Homo sapiens: one gene and its partners. The protein of the gene in region 3 interacts with the protein of the main gene of each other region in a biochemical or structural test. Each region holds a gene or a part of one and is shown on either strand. Other genes may lie near its edges.

The links.
Region 1: the proteins of RAP1A (region 3) and TNFRSF10C form a complex in vitro, tested with the Homo sapiens proteins (one study listed by BioGRID).
Region 2: of the proteins of RAP1A (region 3) and RAP1GAP, one has a biochemical effect on the other in vitro, tested with the Homo sapiens proteins (one study listed by BioGRID).
Region 4: of the proteins of RAP1A (region 3) and RAPGEF4, one has a biochemical effect on the other in vitro, tested with the Homo sapiens proteins (one study listed by BioGRID).

The regions. Positions count from the first base shown.
Region 1 is NC_000008.11:23,105,892-23,112,920, forward strand, and holds part of TNFRSF10C (tumor necrosis factor receptor superfamily member 10C precursor), read left to right. Parts: intron 1-5,828; coding exon 5,829-5,934; intron 5,935-7,029. UniProt on the Homo sapiens protein: Receptor for the cytotoxic ligand TRAIL. Lacks a cytoplasmic death domain and hence is not capable of inducing apoptosis. May protect cells against TRAIL mediated apoptosis by competing with TRAIL-R1 and R2 for binding to the ligand.
Region 2 is NC_000001.11:21,596,358-21,603,386, reverse strand, and holds part of RAP1GAP (rap1 GTPase-activating protein 1), read left to right. Parts: intron 1-473; coding exon 474-583; intron 584-1,547; coding exon of another isoform or gene 1,548-1,589; coding exon 1,590-1,703; intron 1,704-3,769; coding exon 3,770-3,893; intron 3,894-4,884; coding exon 4,885-4,987; intron 4,988-5,291; exon of another isoform or gene 5,292-5,322; coding exon 5,323-5,426; intron 5,427-5,658; coding exon 5,659-5,667; coding exon of another isoform or gene 5,668-5,701; intron 5,702-6,122; coding exon of another isoform or gene 6,123-6,413; 3' UTR 6,414-7,029. UniProt on the Homo sapiens protein: GTPase activator for the nuclear Ras-related regulatory protein RAP-1A (KREV-1), converting it to the putatively inactive GDP-bound state.
Region 3 is NC_000001.11:111,615,124-111,622,788, reverse strand, and holds the start of RAP1A (ras-related protein Rap-1A precursor), read right to left. Parts: upstream 3,001-7,665; 5' UTR 2,855-3,000; exon of another isoform or gene 2,391-2,854; intron 1-2,390. UniProt on the Homo sapiens protein: Counteracts the mitogenic function of Ras, at least partly because it can interact with Ras GAPs and RAF in a competitive manner. Together with ITGB1BP1, regulates KRIT1 localization to microtubules and membranes.
Region 4 is NC_000002.12:172,731,189-172,738,858, forward strand, and holds the start of RAPGEF4 (rap guanine nucleotide exchange factor 4), read left to right. Parts: upstream 1-4,656; 5' UTR 4,657-4,795; coding exon 4,796-4,860; exon of another isoform or gene 4,861-5,202; coding exon of another isoform or gene 5,203-5,237; intron 5,238-7,670.

The DNA of each region.
Region 1 (7,029 bases), on a different chromosome or scaffold from region 3:
GTGGTAAAATGAGATTCAGGGCTAGAGTTCTCTGAGCAGCTGCTTCTCTGATCTCTGTCCTGCCCTTGGCCTCTGGGAGCTCTTATGGTTCCTCAGCAGAGTTCACAGGGCTCTTGGAGCCTGTCCTTCGGCCTTGAGCTGAGGCCACAACTGCGCGCACTTCATAGGCTTGAGGGGAAAGTGATTCATCCAGGAAGTAAACAGTGAGCCCTTTACTCTGAGAACACCTGTGCCTGGAGTCCGCCGGAGTTTGGGAGGACAAATGAACCCCATGTGAATCCTGTTCCCTGGAGCCCGCAGTGTGGTGGGAGAGGTGACCCAGGGATTATATAACTAATAGGAGGTAGCATGAAGGAGGCCTGAGATCTCACTACCCTTGCCTCCCCCTCCTCCAGAGAGGCTGTGCTGGAGAGAGGCCATGCTGTTGCAGGGCCATAGGATGTGGTACTGTTGGCCTGGAAGATGTGGTTTGATTACAGTCACCATTGAGGGTCAGGGAGGGGAGCGAAGCTCTCCTTTAGATGCCCCCCCACCCGATTTTTTTTTTTTTTTTTTTAGCTGGGCCTGAGAATTTGATTCACCTAAGAGAGGTCCACAGGAGACAAGCACACACATTTATTTAATTCAAGTTTTACCTGGCATGGAAGAACCTGTGAGAGTCAGTTACTTATTTACTGAATTAGACCAAGTAACTCATGAAGAAGCAAGTAACTATGTGAGGAGCTAAAAAGATGAGAGTGGATCCATTCTAACATGGTCTGCACAGTACCCTCTTGGCCTCGACTTCTCATCCTTAAAAATAAGGAAATTGTCAGCTGGGTGCGGTGGCTCACGCCTGTAATCCCAGCACTTCGGGAGGTCAAGGCAGGTGGATCACGAGGTCAGGAGATCGAGACCATCCTGGCTAACACAGTGAAACCCCGTCTCTACTGAAAATACAAAACAATTAGCGGAGTGTGGTGGCGGGTGCCTGTAGTCCCAGCTACTGGAGAGGCTGAGGCAGGAGAATGGTGAGAACCTGGGAAGCAGAGCTTTCAGAAAAAAAAAAAAAGGAGATTGTCCTATGTTTCCCTGGGGACTTTCATCTCCTGCTTTTAGGAAACACAAAAGAGGTCAAAGGATCTTCTTGCACCTGTTGTTTTTCAATAGCCTTTAATTCATAATAGTCAATTGACCAGGGTGGGCAGGGTGCGATGGCTCACACCTGTAGTCCTGCCAAGACAGGCAGATCACTTGAGCCCAGGAGTTCAAGACCAGCCAGGGCAACATAGCAAAACCCGGTCACAACAACAACAACAAAAAACCAAACAAACAGAAAAACAGAAAAACACAGAAAATTATGTCGTGTGAAGGAATCCACACAGAATGCTTACCATCTGATTCCATTTCTCATTAAAATTCGACCAATCTATTCTGACAAAAAGCAGAATTATTGCTGGGGACATAGGAGCAAAGCGGAAGAGAGGATTACATTGAAGAATGAAGAAATTCTGGGGTGTGGTGGACATGTCATTTTCTTATCGTGGTGGTAGTTCCACAATGTATACACACGTCTCAATCTACCAAACTACATGCTTCAAAAATGTACACTTTGTTTCATGCCCATTATACCTCAATGAATCCATTTTTAAAAAACCTTCAATAGAATGTAAACACTTGAGTGTATACTGTATTCCCTATAGCACTTGCACATAGATCATGGAAATAGGTATGCATAAAAAGTCAGTTTATCCAATTAAAATGGAATTCTAAAAGGTAATTAACATTAAAATGTGCAGGGGGAAAAGGAGTAAAAAAATTAGACTAGACAATCATAGCTTAAATGGTAAACTTACAGGTCTATTTCAACTATATCAATTATTGCACTCCCTGTAAATCCACTGAGCACTACAGTTCAATGGTAGAAATGTTTGGAAGGGCTGAGAAAGCAAGACTCAACTATATCTTGTCTATATGAGATGGGCCTTAAAAGGAAGACACAGATGTTGTCTGTTGAAAGTAAATAGATGGAAAAAGATACACCATGCAGAGTGTAAGGCCAAGAAAACTGCCATGGCTATCTCAGTATCAGATGAAGTTGATTTTGTTAGCGGTGGATGAGATCCGAGTTACCCTACGTTGAAGGCGGCGAATCCGTATGCGTCCACAGCACCTTCAGCTCTTCGCCTCCTGAGAAGAAAGAACTGGTTTGAGGGGCATAAGGCAGAAGCAGAGATGGAGGCAAGTTTCAGAGCAGGAGTGAAAGTTTATTAAAAAGCTTTAGAACAGGAAGGAAAGGAAGGAACAGGAAGGAAAGGAAGGAACAGAAAGAAAAGAAGGAAAGTACACTTGGAAGATGGCCAAGCAGGTGACTTGAGAAACAGTACGCAGCCGGACCGCCTGAGTTGGGGTTTTATAGGTTGGCCTACTTCCAGGATCTTGCCTTACTTCTCCCCACTCCTGAAATCTTATTGGGAAGCTGCTGATCAGTTTCAAGTGTTTTCTATGTATTAGGAAACTGCTTTTTTCTGGCATCGGCTGTAACCAGTTATTACTTTAGAGACACAGTTATCAACTACCTGATGGTCGCCCAACACTGCTGGTGTCAGAAGCGGGGACCCCTCTCCTGTCCTGCTCATACCTAACTAGCTGCCTACTGTGACAATTTTAGGACATTGAATATTATGGGAGATGAAAAGGGACCTTTGTAGTTAAAAGGGTTAATTCTTCAAGGAGTATAATAACAACAAATTGTATATGCCTAGTAATACATCTTCAAAACACATGACACAAAAATAGAATTAAAAAGAGATTAACTCAGCTGTTTCTCTGCACTTGCTAGCATGATTAGATGAAAATGCCAGTAAAGTGGCAAGCGATCTGCACACTATCAACCACCTTGATTTAACTGACATTTAAAGAGCAGGAGTGGAACATTCACTGAACACTCATTCCTTTCTATGCTCATGATACTTTCACCAAGATAGACCAGGTTCTGGGCTATAAAACACACAATATGATCTCTAAACTTAATGAAACTAAACTGGAAATCAGTAACAATATCCACAGAGAATTCTAAAATTTTGATATTGAACAACACACTTCTAAAAATCTGTGGTTCAGACAGGAAATCAAAAGGGAAGGTAAGATATTTCAAAGTAAGTAATAATGACAATATAACACATCAAAAGTGGTGCGAAATAGCTAACAGTGCTCAGGGTGAAATATACAGCTTTCAATGTTTGTATTAAAAAACTGGGGGTTAGGGAGATGGGGAGTTACTGCTGAAGGGTATGTAGTTCCTTTCTGGAGTGATAAAAATATTCTAAAATTGATTATAGTGATGATTGCATAGCTATGAGTATATTAAAAACTGCTGAAGTGTGGACTTTAAATGGGTGAATTATATGAATAATCATAATTATTAATTATGTGAATTGTGTCTCACTAAAGCTGTCAAAAAAAGAAAAAACGTGAAAATTATGGGCCGGGCACGGTGGCTCACATCTGTAATTCCAGCACTTTGGGAGGCCGAGGAGGGTGGATCACGAGGTCAGAAAATCGAGACCATCCTGGCTAACACGGTGAAACCCTGTCTCTACTAAAAATACAAAAAATTAGCCAGGCGTGGTGGCGGGCACCTGTAGTCCCAGTTACTTGGGAGGCTGAGGCAGGAGAATAGCATGAACCTGGGAGGTGGAGCTTGCAGTGAGCCGAGATTGTGCCACTGCACTCCGGCCTGGGAGACAGCGAGACTCCATCTCAAAAAAAAAAAAGAAAAAGAAAAAGAAAATTATGGCCTGAGGAGCTACATTAATCAATCATAAAATATAAGTGTAAATTTAAACCAAACAAAGTAACAGGAAGGAGCATAAATCAAAGAATACAAACCACAGAAAGAACTGAGAAAACCAACTGTGTGCGGTGGCTTACGCCTGTAATCCCAGTACTTTGGGAGGCCCAGGCAGGCAGATCACTTGAGCTCAGGAGTTAAACCACTCTGGGCAACATGGCGAAACCCCAGCTCTACAAAATATGTGAAAATTAGATGGGCGTTGTGGCACACACCTGTCTTTGGGGACTGAGGTGGCAGGACCACTTGAGCCTGGGAGGCAGAGGAGGCAAAGGTTGTAGTGAACCGAGATTACACCACTGCACTCTGCGCTCCAACATGGAGGACAGAGGGAGACCCTGTCTCCAAAAAAAAAAAAAAAAAAAAAAAAAAGACAAAATGAAAAGTTGGTCTTCTGAAAGGATTTTAAAAAACACTAATAAACCCCTCATTAAATGAGAGGGAGTAAGAGTGTGAGAGCAGAGAAAGGAGACGCAGACATCGCCTGAACCTAGAGGGACTCCAACCCGGGAAAGAATGATTTGGGAAAAGTGGGTTAGCTTCACTGTCACCAACTGCTAGTCAGGCTTTGATGTGGAAGAAAGCTACATTTTGTCTTGTTTAGATCCAGGCAGTTGAACTGAGCCCAACATAAGCAGCTTTCATTGTAACCATTTTGGTTTTGCTTAAATTAATTTCCTACTTTAAAACACTCCCAACTTAAAGAAAAGTTACAAAAACTATACAATAAAAACATTTGAAAAAATGGCTGTTGGCATGATGAAAGCTATTATTGAATTCTTTAGTGTGTACTTTCTACAAACAAGGAAATTAACATCAACACATTACCACTATCTATCCGCACTCTATTCCGATTTCTCCAGTTGTCTTCTAGTTGTCATTTATAACATAGAGATCATGGCCAGAATCCCTGAATTGCTGTTTCATCTTTTTTGTCACTCTTTGATATTTAGTGGGAGCAGCTTGACAAGGTCCTTTGTAAAGCAGTAATTAATTACTTAATGTTTGATGCTATATCCTGACTTTCTGTAAGGTTATATATATTATAACCTTCATTTGTAAAGCTGAGTATGTTTAAGTGTGTGTCTGTGTGTATTTGTGTGTGTGTGAGTGAGAGACAGAATTCACCTATTGGTCAATTAAACACTTGGTGAAACTAAATATATTAAATGCTATTTCTGCATGAAGGGCTCATATGTGTGTGGTTTTTTAAAATTCTTATAAAATCTTTTCTTTCCAACCATGGTGGCATGTGCCTCTTATCCACATTTCTTGGGAGACTGAAGCAGGAGGATCACTTCAGGCCAGGAGTTCAAGCCTATAGTAAGATATGATCACACCTGTGAATAGCCACTGCATTCCAGCCTGGGCAACATAGCAAGACTCTGTATCAAAAAAACAAAATAGCTCTTCTTGCTCCCATTATCTGGGGTAAATTTATGTTATAATATGAGAAAAGGATACATAAGTGTTTTTCTTTTTCTTTTCATTTTTTCTTTTTTTTTTTTATTTGAGATGGAGTCTCGCACTGTCACCACATTGGAGTGCAATGGCGCGATCTTGGCTCACTGCAACCTCTGCCTCTCAGGTTCAAGCTATTCTCCTGCCTCAGCCTCCTGAGTAGCTGGGATTACAGGTGTGTGCCACCACACCCAGCTAATTTTTGTATTTTTAGTAGAGACAGGGTTTCACCGTGTTGGCCAGGATGGTCTCGATCTCTTGACCTTGTGATCCACCTGCCTCAGACTTCCACATTGCTGGGATTACAAGCTTGAGCCATCGCGCTTGCCTGTATTTTTTTTTTTTTTTATAGAAAATAGCTGGCCCTAACAGGCCAAGGGACAAACACAGGTATGAAAGAATGAAAGTTTGGAGCTGGAAAAAATGTCCAAGCTCTGATGGGTTTTGTCACTTGGGGTGAAGGGAATGTGAGATGGAGCCTGGGAGGGGTGAGGTCTGGAAGTCACTCACACCCATCACTCCTTTGTCCCCACAGGTCCTAGCTTACTCTGCCACCACTGCCCGGCAGGAGGAAGTTCCCCAGCAGACAGTGGCCCCACAGCAACAGAGGCACAGCTTCAAGGGGGAGGAGTGTCCAGCAGGTGCACTCTTATTTTTAAAAATCAGTTTATTTTTAATTGACAGATAAACATTGTATGTATTTATGATGTACACCATGATGTTTTGAAATATGTACGCATTGTGGAATGGCTAAATCAAGCTAATTCACATACTTAATCATGTATTCGTGGTAAGAACACTTAAAAATCTGCTCAGCAATTTTCAGCTGTATGGATACAGAGCCCTGGGATAAGCCCTCTTTGCCCTTTTTATCTGTGGGTTCTGTAGCCTTCCTTATCTATGGGTTCTGTATCCATGGTTGCAACAAACCACAGATCAAAAATATGCGGAAGAAATAAAAATGATAATACATCAATAAAAGCAGATAAAAAGCAATGCAGTATAGCACTTATTTACATAGCATGTCTATTGCATTAGGTATTACAAGTAATCTAGAGATGATTTAAAGCATATGTGCGTGGGTTTTATGCAATACTATCCCAATTTATATCAGGGACTTGAGTATATGCAGAGTTTGTTCCATGGAATATATTCCCTGTGGATAGAAGGCAGGACTGTACAACACATTGTTTTAATAACTGTAGTCGCCATGTCACACAATACATCTCTTGAATTTATTCTCCCTGTCTAACTGAAATTTTGTATCCTTTGACTAACATCTCCCCATCCCACCATCCAACTCAAGCCCTGGTAATCACCATTCTGCTCTCCACCTCTATGAGACCAACTTTTTCTGATTCCACATATGTGAGATCATGAGGTGTTTGCCTTTCTGTGCCTGGCTTATTTCACTTAGCATAGTATCCTCCAGCTTCATCCATGCTGACACAAATGACAGAACTCCCTTCTTTTTAAAGGCTGAATAGTATTCCATTGTATCTATGTGTCACATTTTCTTTAACTTTTCATCCATCCATGGACACGTAGGTTGATTCCATGTCTTGACCATTGTAAATAATGCTCCAATGCATATGGGAGGGAAGATATCTCTTCAATATACTGACGTCATTTCCTTTGGATGTATACCCAATAGTGGGATTGCTAGATCATATAGTTGTTCTATTTTTTGTTTTTTGAGGAACCTCCATACTGTTTTCCATAATGGCTGTACTAAT
Region 2 (7,029 bases), about 90 Mb from region 3:
TGTGGGAAGCTGGGGGAGTCTTCCAGCTGCTGGGCCAGAACCTCCCCCAGCCAATTTGGAGGTTCCGGGGAGGGGCCCTAGCTGGCACGGGGTGGGACTTGGGTTGCTACACTGCCCTCTGACCACTGCCCTTAGGCTGCAGATCCCACAGAGCCCTGGGGGGCGGGGAGCGGTAGCCATTCTGAGGACTCGGCCTCCTCCCACCCTAGCCCCCTCAGGATGCTGTCCTAATCCTGGGCCAGTATTGACGTGCAGTCCTGCCGTGTGAGCTCGGGAGAGCCCCTTGCCCTCCTGGGGACTGTTTCCCTTTCGTAAACTGGGAGGCTGTCTCTGGGAATGGATATCTTCTCTCGTTCTTTCTTGCTCATCAACTCTGCTTCAGGGCCTGGGGCAGCAGGATCCCCAGAGGGGATGTGGGGGGGGCACTGGGGCTCCCAGGTAAGGTGGCACTGAGTTGGGGCCTCTCCCCACAGTCACTGATTGTCCCTGGGAAGAGCCCCACGAGGAAGAAGTCGGGCCCGTTCGGCTCCCGCCGCAGCAGCGCCATTGGCATCGAGAACATACAGGAGGTGCAGGAGAAGAGGTGGGTGAGTGGGGGACAGTGCCCCATTCCCCTGCATCCCCATCCCTGAGCCCCATTCGGTGGCAAAGCAAGGCAGGCAGAAGGGAGTGCCCGCCCCTCTGCCTCTCCATCCCCACTAGTGACAGCTGTGTGGTCAAGTCCCTGCTGCGTGTCGGGCACCAGGGCCAGCACGTCACCTAACGTGCCACATGCAGATCAAGAAGCGGTAGGTCAGAGGAGTCAAGGGGCTTGCCCAGATCACACAGCCAGTGATGGGCAGAGCTAGGATCTGAGCCCTGATCTGTCTAGGGCCAGCATCCGTGCTCTTCCCACGGCCCCAGCGCATGTGGGAGGGCCTAGTGCTGGTTTTCAGGGTGGCCACAGATGGGCCTGGGGGGTCCATGAGTGTGGGCAGCATGAGGGCAGTGAGCCCAGGCCAGCAGCAGGGCTGCCCCCGGACATCAGAGGCTAGCTCCCGGCTGCCTCCCCGATATTAACCATGTGTGACCTTGGGCGAGTCACTGACCTCCTCTGAGCCTTACTGTCCCAACCTGGAAAAGGGACAAGAACACAACCCATGGCATGGGGCTGCTGTGGGGACTCAGGGCACTGCGTGTGAGGCCAGGGCCAGGTCCCCTGAGAGGGCTCCAGGACGGGAGTGGGCATTGTCCTTGCTGCTGCCAGAGCTCCGCATGCTGTGAGTCCTGGGTTCAGGTCTTGGCACTGCCACGTCCTAGCTGTGCGTCCCTGGGCAGGTTCCTTATCCATAATGGGACAGCTATACCTGCTCCTGTGGAGAGGACCTGGGAGGAGTCCCATCCTGTCCCATATAGCCCCATCAGTGCCAACCCCATCACTGGCCAGGCTAGCCAGGGAGCCCACAAGACTGCTCCAGGGCTGGCCCTGAGTATAGGGGCGTGGGTATGAGGCAGGAGGCACCGTGACTCCCCTCACCGCCTGGGCCTCACGCTACGCCTGATGCCAGGCCTGGTGCTGAATCCCCCCGCTGCCCCCGTGTGCCCCGCAGGGAGAGCCCTCCGGCTGGTCAGAAGACCCCAGACAGCGGGCACGTCTCACAGGAGCCCAAGTCGGAGAACTCATCCACTCAGAGCTCCCCAGAGATGCCCACGACCAAGAACAGGTTGGGGCTCAGGGCACGTGGGGCTTGGGGGCTTGGGAGTGGTGAACCGTCCTTCCCCTCCCCTGCCTGGGCCCGGGACAGCACAGGAGCCTTGACTGTGCCACAGCAGGGTGTCAGGGGGACCTGGGCATTCTCTGGGGCCCTCCTTTGACATATACCCAGCGAGCACTTTGTGCACGCCCAGCCCCGCGCCCGGCTCTGGAGCACAGAGGTGCCCTGCGCATAGGTCCCCGCCTCACGGCCGCAGGTCCATCAGAACGCGGCCTCATAGGCTGTTGCCGGATCATGGTGATAGGAGGAACCCGAAGCAGGGTTGGGGGGATGAAGAGGGACTGGGGGCAGAGGTGTTTTAGATGGGTCCTCGGGGAGACACCTCCATGGGGTGACATTTGAATTGGGAACTGAACCAGCCCTGCTAGGACTGGCATGGCAGAGGAGCTCGGCCAGTGCAGAGGCCTGGGGCACACTCCAGGGACAGAAAGAAGGGTGGCTGGGAGTGGTGACGTATGCCTGGAGTCCACCTACCTGGGAGGCTGAAGCAGGAGGATGATTTTAGCCCAGGAGTTGGAGGCTGCAGTGAGCTATGATCATGCCTGTGAATAGCCACTGCACTCTAGCCTGGACATCATAGCAAGACTCCATTGCTTAAAAAAAAAAAAAAGAGTATCTGAGGGGCTGGGCCTGGACAGACATTGTGACATTGTGCTGGGTGGTGGCGGGAAGGAGGTTGGAGAGGTGGGCAGACACTGGCTTATAGCTTAGCAGGCTGTACAAGAGCTTTGACTTTTTTTTTTTTTTTGAGACAGAGTCTTGCTCTGTCTCCCAGGCTGGAGTGCAGTGGCACAATCTCGGCTCACTGCAAGCTCCACCTCCCGGGTTCACGCCATTCTCCTGCCTCAGCCCCCCAAGTAGCTGGGACTACAGGTGCCCGCCACCATGCCCATCTAATTTTTGTATTTTTAGTAGATACGGGGTTTCACCGTGTTAGCCAGGATGGTCTTGATCTCCCGATCTCGTGATCCGCCCGCCTCAGCCTCCCAAAGTGCTGGGATTACAGGCGTGAGCCACTGCGCCCAGCCTAAGAGCTTTGACTTTTATCCTAAGTGTGACAGGGAACCTTGGGAGGATTTTAATTACGAGGGCGATGCTTTAAGAAGCTGACTTCGGTTGCTGTACAAAGAGGCTGGAGTGGGGTGGGATGGAAGCAGAGAGGCCAGTGAGGAAACTGTCCCTGCATTTGGTGTCCGTTGGCTGAGCTGCCTCTGTGTTGGGCTCTGTGGGAATCAAGAGGACTCAGCCCAGGCTAAAGAGCCGGGTAGGTGAACAGAGAGGCAGGAAAGGGTGGCAGGGACCAGGGAGACGCAGTATGCAGGAGCCAGAGTGGGGAGGGTCATTCTCACCTTGGGAGGAGGAATCAGGGAAGGACTCCTGGAGCGAGAGCCCTAGGCTGATTTTTTAAAGGCACATTTGCTTTTCGGGATTTGAGAGGACTGAGACTCCAGGCAGGAGGCATAGAGGCCCTGAGCATGAAAACCTTGTGGGATTAAGAGAGTAGACTGTGGAGTTGCCTGGACCTCAACCCCTGCCCTCCCACCTGTGCTGAGTGACCCTGGGCTGTGTGCCTGTCCCCTCTGTGCCTGGTGTCATCTCATCTGGAAGATGGGTATAATAATCATAGCGATAAGATAATTCAGGTAAAGGCACGTAGAGCAGTGCCCGGTGCAGAGTGAACGTGCACCCGATGATGTTAGTGTCGCTAACCGCTGCTGTTTTTGAACACCACGCCAAGGATATTGTGCTTTACCTGGGGAAATGGGAGGCCAGGAGAGGGTTTTGAGCAGGGGAGGGACGTGGTCAGATTTATGGATTAGGAAGGACAATGCGGGTAGGAGGAGGCTGCAGGGGGAGTCTGGGGGGCTCAGAGGCCCAAGGATCTGTAAGGGGTCCTCAAAGGTGCTTGGCTGCTACCAGCTGGGCCTCCCGGGTTGGGGAGGGCAAGGGAGTGAGGGCCTGGCCCAGGAGGGGCTCGGGGTGGACACCGGCTAATGGGGCACTGTCTGTGGCAGAGCGGAGACCGCAGCGCAGAGAGCAGAGGCGCTCAAGGACTTCTCCCGCTCCTCGTCCAGTGCCAGCAGCTTCGCCAGCGTGGTGGAGGAGACGGAGGGTGTGGACGGAGAGGACACAGGCCTGGTGAGAGGCTCAGGGGGGTCAGGGGCCCCACAGGAGCTTGGAAGGGGGCTCTTTGGTCCCTGGAGATGCCCTGAGTAGAACCACGAGCCTGGGCGTGGCTGAGATGTGATCAGGGGACCCGGCCCAAAGGAGCAGTGCAGACGAACCCTCCCCTGCTCAGAAGCCTTCCACGGCTCCCCAGCACTGTCCACAGGAAGCTCAGTCTCTGGAGCTCTTGGAGATCTGGTCACTCCCTTCCTCTCTAGTCTCCTCTCTTACCACTTCAGACATTCTGTACTCCGTTGCAGTCCCCCAAGCCTCCCAGGCTCACTGCACCCCTGGCCCTTTGCGCATGTGCCATCTCTTCTGTCTGGAACACTCTTCCTGCCGCCTCCTCCTTTCTTTGCCAGGCTGGCTCTGACTCATCCTTTTTGACTGAGTCTCACACACCTCCTCCTGAAAGCCTTCCCTGATTTCCTAATCTCGGGGTAGGTTAGGAAGCCCCTTTACGTTCTCACAGTCCTCGGGCTTTGCCCGGAACACCCTTTATCATTCTTCATTCTGCAAACCATCAGTGGGCCCCTGTTCCTTGCCAAGCGCTGCCCCAGATACAACAGATACAGCTGGGAACAGTGCAGACCCAGGCCCTGCCTGCTGGGGCACAGAGTCTAGAATTGCAATGGTCTCTTCACAGCCTGCCTTGCCTCCCAGATATCAGGCTCCTGAGGGCAGGGCCCATGCCTGATTTATGTCAGTGGCAAGCCCTGGAGAACATCAGTGAATGTTTGTTGAGTGAGTGAGTGGCAGTGGGTGGCGTGTGCCTGGGTCTGTGCCTGCCCTGACTCTGCCCTCCTGTGGTCTCCCTGGGGCAGACATGGCTAGGCCCGTCCTCCTCGCAGAGGGTACGGGTGGGGGGTTGTGGAATGCAGTGAGGGAGAGGGGCTGGGAGGGAGCCCTAGCCAGTGCCAAGGGCATAGGCTAACCTCCCTCCCTCTTTCCACCCCCTCCCCAGGAGAGCGTGTCATCCTCAGGAACACCCCACAAGCGGGACTCCTTCATCTATAGCACGTGGCTGGAGGACAGTGTCAGCACCACTAGTGGGGGCAGCTCCCCAGGTACCAGGACAAGGCAGCTTCCCCACAAAGCAGGGCTACCTTGGGGTAGGAGGGGGACAGGGCTGGGCACCAGTTCCCATGCCCCATGCAGTGGATGTGATGTGACTGCCCCTGACTTGGAGGACAGCGGGCAGGTCATTGTCCAGCCTAGGGTGGCTGGGTGGATTGGAGGGCTGGTTTCTTCCGGAAGGGTCTCGGAGGATAATGGGGGATGGCAAGGAAGAAAGTTAAGGGTGGGGTTGGAGCGCACTGGTGCCGACCGCCCACCTATGCCCCCGTCTCCCTGGTGCCTCCCCGCGGCCAGTGAGGTGGCTCCCTCCTGCCCCCCTCCCCAGGCCCCTCTCGATCACCCCACCCAGACGCCGGCAAGTTGGGGGACCCTGCGTGTCCCGAGATCAAGATCCAGCTGGAAGCATCTGAGCAGCACATGCCCCAGCTGGTACGTGCAGCCTCCTGGGGCTGGTGCTGAGGGAGCCCCACCCGGGAGGGGATGAGCTGGCGGGGAGGCTGGGAGCTGAGGCTCGACCAAGAGGTCCCCCTAGGCCCCGCTAGGCCAGGAGGGGTGGGGCTTGCCCGGCCTGGACACAGCCAGTGACTTTGTGCACCTGTGTCTCCCGCCCCGTTGCTTCTCCCGTCTTGCCACCTGCCTCACCACCACTGTCTGTCTGCAGGGCTGTTAGCCGGGCCACCCCCTCTGAAGGTGAAACTGAGCAGGTTAGACCCAGCCCCTCAGCTTGTGTTTGGTGGGAGAGGGTGGGGGTGTGTAGAGGGCTGAGCTGATTCCTCCCTGTTCTTCTGTCACCTCTCTGGGGTGGGAGCTATGTATCTGGGTTTGAGCCCCCTGGTCCTCAGTTGCTGGGTGACTTGGGCAGGCCACGGCCCTTCCCCGTGACCTCTGCCCTTGCATTGTTGGAGGATTTGATGGGAGTGTGAAAGGGACTTGGCAGTTGCCAGGTGGGGAGAAGTTTCAGGGGTTCCCAATGGGATGGAAAGACCTGGAGCCTGGAATTCCAAGGGTGGGCCCCTCCCAGGGTGGGGTTCTCTGAGGCAGGGACTTGGCAGAGTTGGGGCACACTGGTGCCAGCCACCCACCATGCCATGTTTCATGGTGTCTCCATCCCCCTTTGCCCTGCAGATGAGGCCACAGAAGCACAAGGGGAAGGTGCCGTGTCAAGCCCAGGCAGACGAGACCTCTGCCCTGAAGACCAACACCAGCCCGTGGGCTGCCCCCTGCCTCCCCACCCTCCCCATGGCCCACCCATCTGGGCTGTCTCTGCAGGGCAGAGCCGTCCAGACCTGGGATCAGGGAAGCTGCTGGCATCGTCCCCACCCCCAGCCTGGGGGTCTGGGCTGGGGCAGGGATTGCTCAGTGGAAGCAGGACTGGGGGTCTGGCTTGCCCCCTCCCTGGGCCTCCATCACCCCTGAGCATCCCTCTGGACTCAGAGGGAACAAGGTGGGAGAGAGAGTTTGAGACAGCTCCGTGTGGAGAGCTTAGCCCCTGGAGGCAGCACAAGGAGGATGTGATATGTGGGGGAGTGAGCACTGGGTTGGGAGCCGGGTCCTGGTTTCCAATTTGGGTTCTGCTGTGTGACTCTGGGCAAGTCACTCTCCCTCTCTGGGCATGTCTGCTACAAATGGACAAGATTATTTCAGAGGTCACTGAAGACTGTGATTACATGCACCTGCCTTAGAAGGTAGGATTTTCTTCCCAGGGACCTCCTATCACCCTACCCTGCTTCTTGAGGTCCCTGGAGCCCCAGGTGGGCTGAGGGGCAGGGAGCCGGCTGTGCCCAGTATGCCTCCTGGACCCTCCAGTTCTGCCACAGGTCTGCCGATGCCCTGTCCACTGCCTACACATGACAGACAAGTAACCCCCTCATGGGGGATGGGGACCTACCTGGCTCCTCAGCCAGCACCCAGCTTAACCCCTGCCATCCCATGCTGGGCCCTCCAGGCCAAGAGTCTCAGCTGGCCGAGAGTCCAGGCCTTGCCTCCCCCGACCGCCATGGAGGGGGCAGCCCGGCACAGCTGCTGGGAGCCC
Region 3 (7,665 bases):
TCCTGTAGTTAAATGTTGAAGAGAGGTAAGCTAACATCCAAAATTTAAATGTGAGCTATTGAAAAATTCAACTTAACAATCTGAAAGTTATCTTTTTATGACTGACATTATTTTTTAAATGTTAAACAATAATGTCCAATGCAAGTATACAAGCGACATTACCATGGAATGTTTGTCAACAACTGTGGCTGTCAAAATCAGTATAACCTAGTCTTAAGAGTATAAGGTAGGGTGAGAGGATAGAAACAGTGGCAGGGAAGGGTAGTAAGGGAAGACCTGAGACTGGTGCAGAGACCTGAAGAAGTGAGGGATATATACTGCCTTGGGGAAAAAGGTTACAGGCAGAGAGGACATTAAGTGCAGACACCTCAGTGTATTTGACCTTTTTGGGATGTAGGAGGCCAGTGTGGCTGGAGTACAGTAAGCAAGAGGAAAAGTAAAGGGGCTTGAGATTAGGGAAATAGCTGGGCAGCTGTAAGGCTTGTAGGCCATGGTAAGAACTTTGGATTCTACTGTGAATGAGATGGGAAAACACTGGAGGGTTTTGAATAGAAGAGAGACTTGTTCTGAAGTTTGTGAGCATCATTGTAGCTGCTGTGTGGAAATCAACTTGGGGTGGAGGGGCAAGAGTGGAAGCTGGAAGATCAATTAGGAGATTAATAATCTTCACTTCTAACCTTTTTCAGTGATTGCAAAATTGTGTATCTTTCTGCTGTTGGGCAAGTAGTTTCCTTTTCTTCCCATCTATTAAAATAATTAAATGAACATGTGCATATACAACATTTTCTTTCTTTTGGAATATTTCCTTGGGATTCATTTTCAGAAGGACTACAGGAACAACGTATATGAATATACCTGTCTTCTGGGGTATATTAAGTGTAGATACTGTCCTTCTTGAAGCCATACAAAAAGTGAACAAAGGCTTTTGAGCTGTTTTAATATGGAACTGTGTAACACTGAGGGATTCCATCCAGTTCACTTCTAAGACATAAGTTCATGGTTGGCCTCAGAGGGTCCCTAAAACTAATGCAAAATTTTGTGAATAAATGCCTATTAACTTTATTCTGGGGAGAGAGTTTATATATTTCATCATATTCTCAAAGGTGTCAGTGGCCTAGAAAAGGTTAAGAATTACTATCTTACAAACTGGAAATGGACTGCAGTATCCTAATATAGGGTACCTCTCAAAAGGACAGAAGATTTAATAACTAGACTCATCTTTGTAATCATTCAATTCATTCAACAAATACTTAACACGTATGATCCTCAATACCTAACAGCTAATCGTATCTGAAGTAGGCCATAATTTAAAACACCAAGAAAACTAGACAGGATTCACTGAAATATCACGCTACAAAAGAATATCGAACTATATGATTTCAAAACAACAATGTTATAGGAAAGCATAATAAAGACAGAAAGTCTGGGGCCTAATTTAATGCTTATTATGTCAAAGTATCACAGAAATAAATTACATCACAAGGAAAGAAAAACTACACATAGGCATGTCCACCCCCACACATTCTGACAGGAAACCCAAAGAAAGTTTCCAAATCCTGTTTCCAGCAGCATCTCTTCTGAGACGGCCCTTCATGCTTTTGAAGGTAGGAGCCCCAAGTTAAATCTAAGAGCTGATACTTTATTCTTACTGTAATCAAAACAAAAACATCATCCGCCACCTAAGAAGAGTGGCTGGCTACCTGTAGGGCTGTGGCTCATTGACCTTCTGCTCTATTATTCTATTTCATTTCTTATACCTCCTCCCTTCAAAGAAGTAACAAAATGATTTTCCCTCCCAAAACAGAATGCATTACTCCTCAATGGCAGTTCTTTTTCCAAGAGGTCAAAGGTTCCCTAAACTCTGGTTCTCAGCCCTAAGAGGAGATCCCATTTTGTAGGCACAAATGTCTTCCTCTCATCTTCTCCCCGTAGCAGTAAATTACACAACTCGGCTGAAGACACCGTCCTTAACTTCCTGATTAAGGGGGCAAGAGATACTCTTACCAAGCCGCTAGTTTGAAGGATAACAAGAATCACACCGTGACCTCTTCCCTAACAAAATTCAGGGAAGAAGCAGAGACCCATGAAAAGTAACACTGAAAAGGCGAACACATGGTAAGCTACGGAAGACATGAGGGTAAAGAAGGCGGGAAAGGGGCTGGAAGGTGGAGTGGGATGTAGATGTCAGCCCTATTAACTGGGGGAATAAAGGAAGGAAAGGGAGACCCTGAACCCTGACAGAAGTGAGCCCGGAGACAGCAATGCTCCAGTCTACCCGCACTCCTACAGCAGAGGACAGAGAATTCACCCAACCCTCCAACCCCGTTCCCCGTGTGTCCCTCCCCCCCGCCCCCGCGGGCCCAAAAGGGAGAGCTGGGTTTGAAGGAAGCTCTGACCCTAGACAGGGGACATGCAAGAGGAGGAAGGCAGCGATGTCCAACCTTCTACTTCTCTCAGGCAGTGAGGTACGAGGGCACCGTGTCTGGGGAGACGGCGAGGGAAATGGGCTTGTGCTATGACACCTCGGGGAGCTGAAGGGTGGGGGACACAATGTCCTCTTTCTCTCCCACAGCCGGCCGGGGCCCCTCCCGACGGTCTCCCGCAGGCCTACAGTCGACCGGGTCGGTCCGCGGGCGTGGTTGGCTCTGGCCCTGGCGGCGGCCGGGCCTCCCAGATCTCCGGCCCCTCCCGCCGGCCAGGCCCCCGGGCCGCCGCCCCGACACCGATGGAACGCGGAGGAGGAAGGGGGAGCCAGGCGACTGACCGGCGACATGAGCCGCCTCACCCTCGGCTCGGCCGACCCGCGCCCCCCGCTCCCTCTGGGGCCGTCTGGAGCTCCCCGCCCCTTACTCACCCCCCCGGTCCGGCGCCTCCTCCACCTCCTCCACCTCCTCCACCTCCTCCTCCTCCTCCTCCCTCCTCTCGGCCGTGGCTCCTGCTCCGGCTCTGCGCGGCGACAGCAGCGGGAGCGGCGGCGGCAGGGGCCTCGGGAGCGGCGGCGGCGCCTCCTCCAGAACGCGCACGCACGCACCACGCAGGCCCCGCCCCCTGGTTCTGCCCCGCCCCTCCAAGTTGGCGATGGCTGGGCTTCGGCCCCGCCTTCCCCACGGCGTTCCGGAGTCCGCTTAAAGGAGCCGCGCACACTGGAGCCGGGAAAGCCTGGAGCTACCGGGAAGGGGCGGGGAGTTTTAGCTTTGCGTAGGGCGGGATGGGAGGTGGGTAAGACCGGAAAAAAGATGAGGAAGGGTCCAAAGATTCAAGAAGAGAATTTGGAGGGAACTCAATCATTCGACAAGCCCTAATTGAGCACCTGTTAGGTTCCAGGCGCTGTTCTAACTAAGCGCAGAGGTTTAAAGTCATAGACAGGCAAAGACCCTCTTGCAGCTTGCATGCTGGTGGAGTGAGAGAGGGGAGACAGACAACAAACAAGTGACAAAAATTGCAGGTAGTGATAAGTGGTGTGGAGAAAAATAAAGCAGAGGATAGGGTGACTTTACACCTGGTGAGATACTGCCTCTCAAAGAAGACCTTTGAGCGCATACACACGGGATGAAGGAATAAGTCTTGCAAACACGCGGGCCTGGAGGAGGAATAGCCTTTCCAAGCTGAGAGAAAATCAGCCATAAACCCAGAGGTGGGGATACGCCTGCCATGTTGCAGAAACAGTGAAAGGCCGGCATGGCTGAGCAGCGTCAGCCAGCCCGAGAGCAGTACCAGCTAGGCTTGGCCAGATCCAGTGAAGCCTGTGGGCCATTATAACAGGAACGGGAAACCATGAGAGAAGGGTGAGCCGAGGAATGACCGCATCTGATTCATGTTGTTAAAAGTTAGTCTTGCTGATGTGTGTAAAATACACAATGGAGAAGCACAGATGTCCTTGGGATACCAGTAAGGTAGCTTGGACTAACTAGCCTGGCAGCCACGGACAGGATGAGAAGAAGGCTATTTTATTTTATTTTATTTTATTTAGATACATTTTGATTGGAATGGATTTGGATTTGGGGCATAGTGTGTGAAAGAACAAAAAGAAATCAAGAGTTGATTCTTAGGTTCGGGCCTGATGACTGAGTTAATGGCGGTGCCACTTAATGAAATGGAGGAGCAGATTTGGGGATGGGGAAATCAAGAGTCTTTTCTTACACATGTTATGTTTAAGGTGTCTGTTATACATCCAAATGGAGATATTGAATAAACAATCGATATATGAGTCTAGAGAGATACATTTGGGATTCATTAGCAAATAGATACTTTTTAAGTCTTAAGTCTAGTTAGGATCACATGGGGAGGGGAGATAGCTGAAGGAAAGGACCAAGAGGCACTCCAACACTTGAAGGTTAAGTAGAAAAGGAGGCGCTACCAGTCAGGGCAGGAGAAACACCAAGAGAAGGTGAAGCGTTGGAAAACAAGATAATTGTTTCAGGAAGGAGAGAGTGAAGAGTCTTATCAGATACTGCTGAAATTAGTAAGATAAGGACTGAGAATTTGAACACTGGATGTGGCCTGATGAAGTTGCTGATGACCTTGATGAAAACAGTTTCAGTGGAGTCATAGGGGAGAAAGTCTGATTAGGGTATGTTAATAGGATGGGAGGTGAGGAAGAGAAAGTGTTCTAAACAGCTCTTGAGAGGCTTTGCTTTGAAGGAGAAAAGGGCAGTAGCCAGAGAGGTACTTGAGATCAAGGGAGGATATTTTAAGATGAGAAATGCTTTTTCTCATTTTAGTATGCTGGAATGATTTTTTTTTTTTTGAGGCGGAGTCTTGCTCTGTTGCTAGGCTGGAGTGCAGTGGTGTGATCTCCGCTCACTGCAACCTCCAACTCCCTGGTTCGAGCGATTCTCCTGTCTCAGCCTCCAAAGCAGCTGGGATTACAGTCATGTGCCACCACACCTGGCTAATTTTGTGTTTTTATTAGAGACGGGGTTTCTCCACGTTGGCCAGGCTGGTCTCGAATTCCCAACCTCAGGTGATCCACCCGCCTCGGCCTCCCAAAGTGTTGGGATTACAGGTGTGAGCCACTGCGCCCAGCTGGAATGATTCTTTAGAGAGGTAAAATTGGGCCAGGCGTGGTGGCTCACACCTGTAATCCCAGCACTTTGGGAGGCCAAGGCGGGTGGATCACGAGGTCAGGAGATCGAGACCATCCTGGCTAACACGGTGAAACCCCATCTCTACTAAAAATACAAAAAAAATTAGCCAGGCGTGGTGGCAGGCGCCTGTAGTCCCAGCTACTCAGGAGGCTGAGGCAGGAGAATGGCATGAACCTGGAAGGCGGAACTTGCAGTGAGCCGAGATCGCGCCACTGCACTCCAGCCTGGGCAACAGAGCGAGACTCTGTAAGAGAGGTAAAATTGATGACACAGAAGGCAAGAGGAGACAACTGGAGAAAGAGTGTCCTCAAATAGGTGAGAAGCAATTGGATCTAGCACAGAAGTGAAAGGGTTGGCCTAGGATAGGAGTAAGGGAATGCATTCACACACTGTTTCTGGAGAGAAGGTAGAGTGTCTGGGTGCAGAAGCAGATAGATTAGACAGTACATTTGGTTGTGGCACGCTCAGGCCCCTGTAGAGCAGAGGCGGCAGGTAGGAGCTGAAATGTAGCCCTTGTTTTGCCCACAAAGCCACGTGCCCTGGTGGGGTCACATCAGCCTGGAGGAAGGGGTACTTTTCTGATTGCTCCACCAGGAGAGGTGGTGCATGTTAGCATCCTGCATATAACACACACACATGCGCAAACACACACACATGCGCATACACACACATGCATACCCACACACACACGTATGGACCTTTTCCCAGTTTCCACTGAGTGCCATATGTACTGGCTGCCTCACTGGGATTGATGAGGTAAGATCTGTTCTCTATGCAATGAAAAGCTGTTGGCTATTAAAGGAGATAGAAGAAGGTGAGAAATAATCTCCTTGAAGAGTGGAAAAGTGACTAGAGAAGCTTAGCATGGACAGTGCTGAGGGCCCTCTTGAGTTGATGATCATACATTAAAGTGAGACCACTCAGCAAGGCCGTGTGATTCTCCTCCAGCCACACTCCATTGCTTGGGGGTTGGAGGAGAATTGTATTTGACCAGGTCTGAGTTTTGCTGGGGAAAGCCTATGAGAGGGGTAGGAGTATTATGTAAGGGAGTGATTATAGTGATAGACCTTGGAATTTAAGCTGGGAGGGAAGACAGGGCAAGTAAAAAGTGGTAGAGTCAATGGTTTGCTGTGGTCCCTGTGAGAAGTAGTTTGAGAGGAAGTAATCAAACAAGTGAGGCCAAGGGGACTTTCCAAAAGTTGAGCATGGGGAAGGGTGAGTAAGGCGGTTAGGGGACAGGAAGCACAAAGCATCTGTGAGAAAAAGGTTCAAGCTGGCTCCAAGGAGCTAAGGAAACAGCAAAGCCCTTGGGCTTCTGTCCTCATCACGGTATATGTGAACCATTGGTTTGGAGAGGTTGAGGAACTGGATTGCCCACTCATAATCTTCAGGGAGCTGCACAAACAGGAGAAACTGAGTGCAGGAGGAGATAAACCAATTAAATCCTCCCAGGGCTCCTTTACAAGCTTTGGGAGAACCCAATGGGCACTTTGCTTTCCCTGCCCTTTCCTTTCACCAGGGATATCTGATGATTTGGGTAGACACTTTATCTGGCCTAGTATTTGACAGAAACTAAACACCTTTCTTCCTAAATCCAGCTCCTCCTCTTCCTGACTTCCTCTTTTCTGTTCATGGCACTACCTTTCTCAGTCACTCAGCTGCCAAACCGAAGCCTCCTTTAATCCATCTTCCTCATTCTATGCCTAATTAGTCCCTAAAGCATAGTGAGCTGCACTGTTCAATAAACATTGCACTGTGATGGAAATGTTCTTTATCTGCATAGTCCAAAACAGGAGTTACATATGGCTATTGAGCACTTTAAATGCAGCTAATGCAACTGAGGAAGTAAATTTTTTTTTTTTTTTTTTTTTTGAGACAGAGTCTCACTCTGTCACCAGGCTGGAGTGCAGTGGCACGGTCTTGGCTCACTGCAACCTCCACCTCCCAGGTTCAAGCGATTCTCCTGCTTCAGCCTCCCGAGTAGCTGGGACTACAGGCACAGGCCACCACGGCCAGCTAATTTTTTTATTTTTAGTAGAGGCGGGGTTTCACCATGTTGGCCAGGATGGTCTCAATCTCCTGACCTCATGATCTGCCTGCCTCAGCCTCCCAAAGTGCTGGGATTACAGGCGTGAGCCACCACGCCTGGCCTGAATTTTAAATCCTATTTAATTTTAATTAAAGTTGCATTTAAAGAGCCTTAATTAGGAGCTGCTATATTGGACTGCACAGGTATAAATACTATACTTTCTACACAATGGCCCTTCCAGCTGCCCCCACCTCTCTAGCTCTATTGCCACGACCCTAGGTCAGGTATTGGTTAACCTAGGTCGAGACTTTTGCTGTGATCTCCTGTTTGGTCTCCTGCTTGGTTGCCTTCCCTTCAGTCCGTCTTGTGTTCTTGCCAAAACCATCTTCCTGAAGCATTGTCCAGATCATGACTCCACCCTATTTTAAAAACTATCAGTAGTTCCCCATCAAATTTAGTACAAACTGCTCAATCTGGCACTTGCCCAATTGTGTATCTCCATCCCACTTTTCTAGCCTTACCTTTCACTATACCCTTACATGTATATCA
Region 4 (7,670 bases), on a different chromosome or scaffold from region 3:
CACCTAAGAAAAAATGAAGGCACCCACAAGATAAAGAGCAGGTTTGACATTAGCCAGGTTTGGAAAAGACAATGCCATCTTACAACTGTCCCAGTAAAGTAAGAACTTTCTTGCCCCTTCTTTTCTCTCTTCCCTTCCCTACTCTGATTCTGGAAGGGTCAAAACCAGCAGCTTTCATGGTGGTCTGGGATGAGGAAGGAAAGGAGAAGCTGACCACGTCTTCTCTCCTAAAGGCTGAGACCTGCCTGTGACCAGCTGTAGGTTGGGGAGGAGGGCAGAGTTCTTTTCTTTGAAATGAAGATTGAAATATGTAGTGATATATTGGTTTGGGCATTCTAATAGAAAGAATCTGGTACTTTCTATTACCTATAAGTGACCAAACAAGCTATATCCAGTGGCAGGGGTAGAATTGCCTTCACTGAGCAAGTTTAAAAGGACAGTGAGATAAAACATTAAAATTGCTTTTATGATTTCACCGAAGGAATACTGCGTCTTCATTGAATTGGTTATATCACCAGCAGGAGTGATAGATGTGTTTTTATAACCTACCTTCCAATGAGGTACCTAAAACATGGTGAATCAGATTTTTCCCCATATACGGATATGAGTGAATGCCCAATCTATGATAGAATTTCCTGGAGAATTTCTATGGGTTTCTCAGGAGACCCATCCCTCATATCCTTTATAGCCAAAACTTGCAATTTATAGATGTCGAAGCCCTTTAGCATAAGTGATCTCGACAGCTTATCACCACCAGGTCCCTGTGAAATGCAGAGAGCACCTAGTATTATTTGCACTATATGGAGAATAATAGCTAAGAGTTATTGAACACTCACTATGTGCTTGGCACTTATGCTAAATATCTTACAAATACCAAATTCATGTATAATACTATTAATTTCTCCACTCTACAGATGATGAAACGGAGTCTTAGGCTAAGTAGTTAATTTAAGGCCAAACATTTAGTAGAAGATATGGCTGCAATTTGAACTTGGCTGCCTGCCTTCAAATTCCTAACTTTGAACCTCTGCTCAGATGAACAAAATGGAAATCAGACATTTTAGCAACTCATTCGAGGATCTACATAGCATTAACAGATATTGGTCTTGTCTCATCCTTGTCTCATGGAGATCTTCAGTAGAGATCTTAGTTCTCTAGTAGAGAAAGAATTCACTAAACTATAGGAAGGAGATTAAACAGATAATACCTTTTCCAAGTGAAAAAACAAGTCTCAAAAGATAGTGTAAGTAAATTATAACTGTACACTAGAATATTTGGTGGCCAGGAAAAAATGTTTAAGGATTTTTTAAGGAAAGTAAAGCATTTTTCCATTCCAATAGAAAAAGTAGCCTATAAACTATTAATGCTTTCAAGTCTGTTTGAATACATGTATCTATACACATACATATATGCACACATATACATACACATAGCTAGTTATATGTATGTGTTTGTGGGTACATGTATGATCATATCACTTCTAATTTTTAATTTTTTTTTAATTTTTGTAGAGATGGGGGGGGTCTCACTATGTTGCCCTGGCTGGTCTTGAACTCCTGGCCTCAAGCAATCCTCCTGCCTTGTCCTCCGAAATTGTTGGGACTACAGATGTGAGCCACTGTGCTTGGCCTTGATTGTATCTTTTCATAATAGAAAAGTTTAGAATTAAATGCACTAAAATATTAACAGTATTACCTCTATGTTATGGAATTATGGGTAATTTTTACTTTTTCTCCTATATTTTTCTCTGTTTCCCCCCAAAAGATCAATCATATTATTTTTCCTCTCCATATAGGTTTATTAATATTTTATTTACTTAACATTTTTATTGAGATAATTTGCATACTGTAAAATTCACTCATTTTAACTATACCATTTGATGATTGTTATTAAATTTATAGAGTTGTGTATCCATCACCACAGTTCAATTTTAGATCATTTCTAGAAGATTTCTCAGGCCCATCTGCAGTCATCCCTTATTCCCACCTCCCAGCCTTAGGCAATCCCTAATCTATTTTCCATCTCTATAGATTCGCTTTTTCTGGAAGTTTCACATAAATAGGATCATACAACATATGCTCTTTTGGGACTGACATATATTGTGTTCTTTTAAAGAGAGGGAAATGAATAAATATTCTTTGGTTCTTTGCCTTTCCCATCCAATCCAAGCAAAAGCCTGTTTTCTTCCTCTTAATACTATAATAACTAATTATCAACAGAGTTTCCTTTACTCCTGTAGTTCTTGACCAGCAATCAAATCCCTTTCAGATCACAAGATAATCTATAGGACAGTAAAGCTATTCCTGATGTTTTAAGGATCTCTGTTTTTTAATTCCTCACACATTTCTCTATTTTTACATTAAAAAACTGATTTATAACTATTTTGTTCTTACCCTCTGGACAGTCATTGTAGACATGCCCTATACTCCCATTCTATTGGCAGAAACAGGGACACCATCACTGATGTGGAAGGGTTTGGAATCAGACAGACCCAAATTCCACTCCGGGGCCCCATCTCCTGTAGCTGGGTTATGGACCCTTCCTGAGTTCAGTGTCTTAGTGAGTATCTTGGAGTTACTTGTACCTACCTCCAGGGCTGGATGAAGACATGAGCATGCTCTGGACAAGCTAGTGATTGTTGGTTCTCCTTCGAAAGGATGTTCTTTAAATAAGTCTTCAACTTCTCTTTAGAGAAGAGGCAGGGCCCCCACACAGCAAAACAAAGGCCTTGCAGTTCATCAGAGCTACACTCCTTAAAATGCACTGTGGACTCCTCGAGGGTCTCACTCTCACTCCCAGCAGCTCATCAGTGTCTTCCTTCCAATCCAATTAACACTCTCCCTGAAAGTACTGATACATATCATTTTCAATATTTCACTACATTTTCAAGGATATTTATTGCTGTTTGTGGAGTAGTGTCTTTCTGGCTCTGCCTCATAGAGTGTTCTGAAGATTAAATGGGATCACACATGTAAGGAGTACTGCACAGGGTCTAACACTCAGTGGATGTTCAATAAATGGCGACTATTATTAGTATCATAACCAAAGCTATGGCAACTCTGAGCCTCTGTGTGATGACAGGTGATGTGCAGCTCCTTTCTCCTCTAGCTCCTTACCTGGAAACCTTCTTTGCAGAAAGGCATTTTCAGAAAGCTTTTGGTGACCTTGAAACATTCTCAGGTGCTCTCTGATGTCTTTATAAATGAAACTTAATATATATAGGAGATACAGTTCCTCCTTCATACCTGTATAGTAAAAAAGCCACAACATAAATACCTTTGGTTAATCTTTCTATAGTATATTATTTTAAATATTAGCATAAACATGATAGAAATTAACAGAATGAAGGTTAACTGGGGGAAAAGCCCTGAGCAGGGAGGGAGGAGTTGCTGTGGGAACACTGTGGCAGGTCTGAAACTAGATCCTGGCTATCCAGCAGAGGGAAATGGCACATATTTGGAGGCTTTTATATCATGGTAATAATTGTTTTATTAGGATCAAAGCATCCCAGAAAGCACTTGCTCTTTCCTTCTCTCCAGTCCCCCTGACTCTCCCCTGAGCAGGGTTGGATAGGAGGTTTGGTGGGGGGAGGAGGCAGGGAACAGTAGAAGAAAGCAATGCTATGTCCCTTTCCCCCATTGTCTGGCCCCAAATGTAGTGCCATAAATATCAAAACAGTGCTTGGTAATAGTCCAAAACATTTAACTTGTCCGCAAATTCCTAAACAACCATTGGCGTGTAATTTGGTTCTTGGCAGAGTGTAACTGAATAACTTGTAGACATGACATTTGTGTGAACATCTACAAGAGACAGGCCGTTATCACCACCCATTCAACACTCCAGCCAGAGGAAGAACAGCAAGGGGGCCAGCCATACAAGTTCACCTGCGCGTCCGGGGTCTCGGTTCTGCTGTGGCCCGGCTACTCCCCATTCTCAACTGTGTTTTCTTCACCATGCAGGTGATGGAAGCCCAGGCAGGCCCAGGGTTCAAGGCCAGTGACTTCAGCCTGTCACCCCCTCAGACCACATCGGGCCCACCGGCCTCCTCCCTCCCTGCCCCTCAGCCCTGCCCGCACTGCCCCCCATTGCGCCCAGCCCTTCCTCACCCCGCAGGAGAAGCTGGCCTCTCATTCCTCACTGAGAGACTCGACGGGCGTCCCCACGCCAAGCCTTCCTCGCCCTCCCCTCCAGCCTTTTCTGAAGGGGAGACAGCAAAGGTGAGCAAGCAACCGCCGGCAAGTTTCGACAGCTGCTGAGGAAGACTCATGGGTTTCTAAGGAAACAGAGAGGCAGCAGCCATTTTAGTAGCATTTGCTGTATGAAAAATATATAGACACTGGCAGCCCTCTCCCCACTCTGCCTTGGCGCCTGCCCTCCCGCCCCGCCTCAGAGGCCCCGGGGTGAGGGTGGGGCCCCAGTCTCCGAGGGACGCAGCGGACACCTGTCGCAGGTGGCCGGCCACCGGGGTCGCCACCCCCAGTGTCCCCCAGCAGCGGGACCGCGGGGTCCCCACCCCGGGGCGGAATCCCCACCCACGGGCGCCGCAGTGCAGCGGCGGGCGGGCGGGCGACTCGGCCCTCCCCGCACCCGCGTCCCGCCCCCCGGGTCCCCTCCCTCTCCCCACCGCCCCAGGCCGCGGGAGCCCGCGGGGAGGGCGGGCCTGTCGCAGCCGCGCTGGTCGCCAGGCGTCCGGGAGGAGCGGGGTCCGCGCGGCGGACGAGGCGGGGGCGGAGGCGCAGGCAGAGCGAGCGCGGGAGGTCGCCGCAGCCAGGGACACCGCGCGCCGCCGCTCAACATGGTCGCTGCGCACGCTGCCCATTCTTCCTCCTCTGCCGAGTGGATCGCCTGCCTGGATAAAAGGTAGCTCGCCGGGGGCCGCAGCCGGGGGCCGAGCTCTGCGGTGCTGCCCGGGCCCTGAGACCGCCGCAGCTCCGCACCTGGGCGCAGCGCGGCCGGGCTGCGGGTGGCCGGGGTCCCCGAGCGGGGGAAGGGGTTGAGGTCCTCGTCCGGGAGACAGGAGGACAAGGATCCCCGCCTCTCGTGGGGTGCCAGCGGCATGAGATTATTACACGTGGTGGAGAAAATGCAGCGCAGTAAGGGGAGAGAGCACCCACCTCTCCAACCCCCTGCCCTGCCGCGACTCCAGGCTCCGCTCCTGGGTGGGGGTTTATTTTCTCTTGGCATCACGGGACAGAAGAATCGATGCATACCCTTTCCGGCTATTCAGACCTTGCGGGGTATGAAGTTTTAAAGAGGGGTGGGGGCACCGGCAGGTGCAGAGTAACATTCTTTTTTTGTTCTTGAAAGCAAAGTGTGAGGGACCCGGTGGAGCTGTCGAATCCCTTGCTGAAATTCACAGCTCTCTGCCCCCGCAGTCGCTCGCTCAAGGTCTGTGTTAGAGAAGGTCATTTGGGAGGCTGCTTTCGTCTTAATACCTGCTTCTCGGGAAAAGATCTTTACGCTAAAAATAATTAAAACCATAAAGCATGTAACTCCCGACGACAGCTCTCTCTAAGGAGGATGTGTGTGTTAACAGTGGATTGCAGTTGTTTCCAGGCTGTGACAGCATAATTTTCTGTTTGTCCAGATTGCAGGTTTAAACGTTACACAGTATGTTAGCAATTATAGCTTATTACCCTGATTAAAAGGTGATGCATCTGAACTTTTAAGAACTGAGCAAGAAATCTTGCAGAGTGAACTGCCTCTGAATTTCGGAGTTTGATGCAGAAGGGCAATGATGCACGTCTTGCAGCTATCTGCATGACATCTCTATTTGCATTTGTGTGAAATATTTTGTGCTCTGCCATATTGAAAAATTTTCAATTAACAGATTCGTAACCAGATCAAACTTGAAAATCTTAAGTGTGACGTGCTTTGCATACTCTATTATAGGCCTTTGTTGAAAAATATTAAGTAATTTGAGAAAAGCTAAATGTAGCTCATTTGAAAAGCTTAATATATCTGAGAAATAATCTTGACTTTCAATTACCACTCAGTAGCAAGATTTTTTGGCAGGTAGTGCCCTATTTATGTCTAAAATGATATGTACTAATATTAAAAGAGTTGCATGCAATAAATAGTAAGAGAATTAAAGTAATAGTTAAATCACACAGGATTATGTAGAAGAACTAAGAGTATTTAAAGTATAGAGGTTGTTAATGTGATAAGTATCTACATTTAATAGTTCAGGAAAAAGGAATTATATGGGATTCAGGATCTTGCACTTAACCTATAAATAGTAGTGCTTCCTTATGAGCAAAATTTTTAGATAATAACATATTTCTATGTGTAGAAATGCATGGCATGGCATTTTTTGAACAGTCGGTAATTCACTGGAAACCCGTTAGTCAATAAGAAGTACTTATGGCAAAATCATAGAGCAATACTAACACAAGTGGGACATATTCGACTCTCTCTTTTCATAATGTGTATCTGCCTAAATGATTTTGCTTGAAATGGATTTTTTAGAGCATGGTGCCCCCATTTAATGCCACCATTCATAATGGGAAAAAAATCTAGGAAAAAAAAAAAAACCCTTCACAGATACTGAGCCTAGCATCAGAAGAGTCAGATGAGTGGATAGATCAATAAGTTAAGGGTTTTAGGCACAGAGCTGTTACCAGTTCTGATATTGGACATGTCACTTTTACTTCCTTGAGTGTCTGAAAAATGAGGATAGGACTATCAGGGATAAGTGGACAAATGGAAGGAGAAAAAAAAGGTGAAATAGTTTGAAAACTGTGAGTGCCATGTAGGCTTTTTGTTTTGTGGTATTAAAAGAACTTTGCATGTTCTGCAGTGTTCATGCCAGAATTAATTCCAATGAGGAACAGTTTAGGGCAGCAATCTCATTGTATGAAGGCCATGGGGGGACTTGTTTTGAAGTTGTGTTTTTACTTAGATTGTTTATTTATTTATTTTTTTTAGGAAAGGAGAAAGGTTGAGAGTGTTTATGGAAGTTGGCTAGGGAAGCCCCCTGAAACACCTGTTTAGTGGAGACACTGCCCTCAATGTTTCTGAGAAATGCTGTCTTGATCCTCTTTTCCAGGCACTGTGAAATGCTATCTTGATCCTCTTTTAAATGCTATCTTGATCTTCTTTTCCAGGCACTGTGCTGGGCACTGGGGATGCAACAAAATATGAGAGTTGCTTGTAGGCTTAGAGGGTAGGGGAGATTGGTGGTGGGACGGCTCTATAAACAGCTAACCACAATGCAATAGTAAGTGCTTTAATGGAGATGTATAAAGTGCTTTGGGAATGCAGATGAGAGAGTTATCGAGATACTTCCATAGGTGTCCTGCCTAGAACTCAGAGGCTGAGAACAATTTTACCAGGCACAGAATAGGGAGGGCATGCCAGGGAGTGGTGTGGCATATGAATATGCTAATTTCTTCCCAACCACAAATTCCTCTTGTGACCAAATCTAGAGTATAGGAATGTATGCTCTATTTTTATAAAATCTTTTTTATTATGGACATTTTCAACCCTGCACAAAAGAGAAAGTACAATGAACCCATGTGGGTTCACTTGGGAATATGATGCTGGGACCTTTCAACTGGGAAAAGGACGTAACTGGGAAACACAGTTCAAATATATGCCTCATTCAAGTGACAACTGTTGTGGATGGTGAAAAAAAGAGAAACCCTGGGACTGGAAATAAAAAGAGAGTT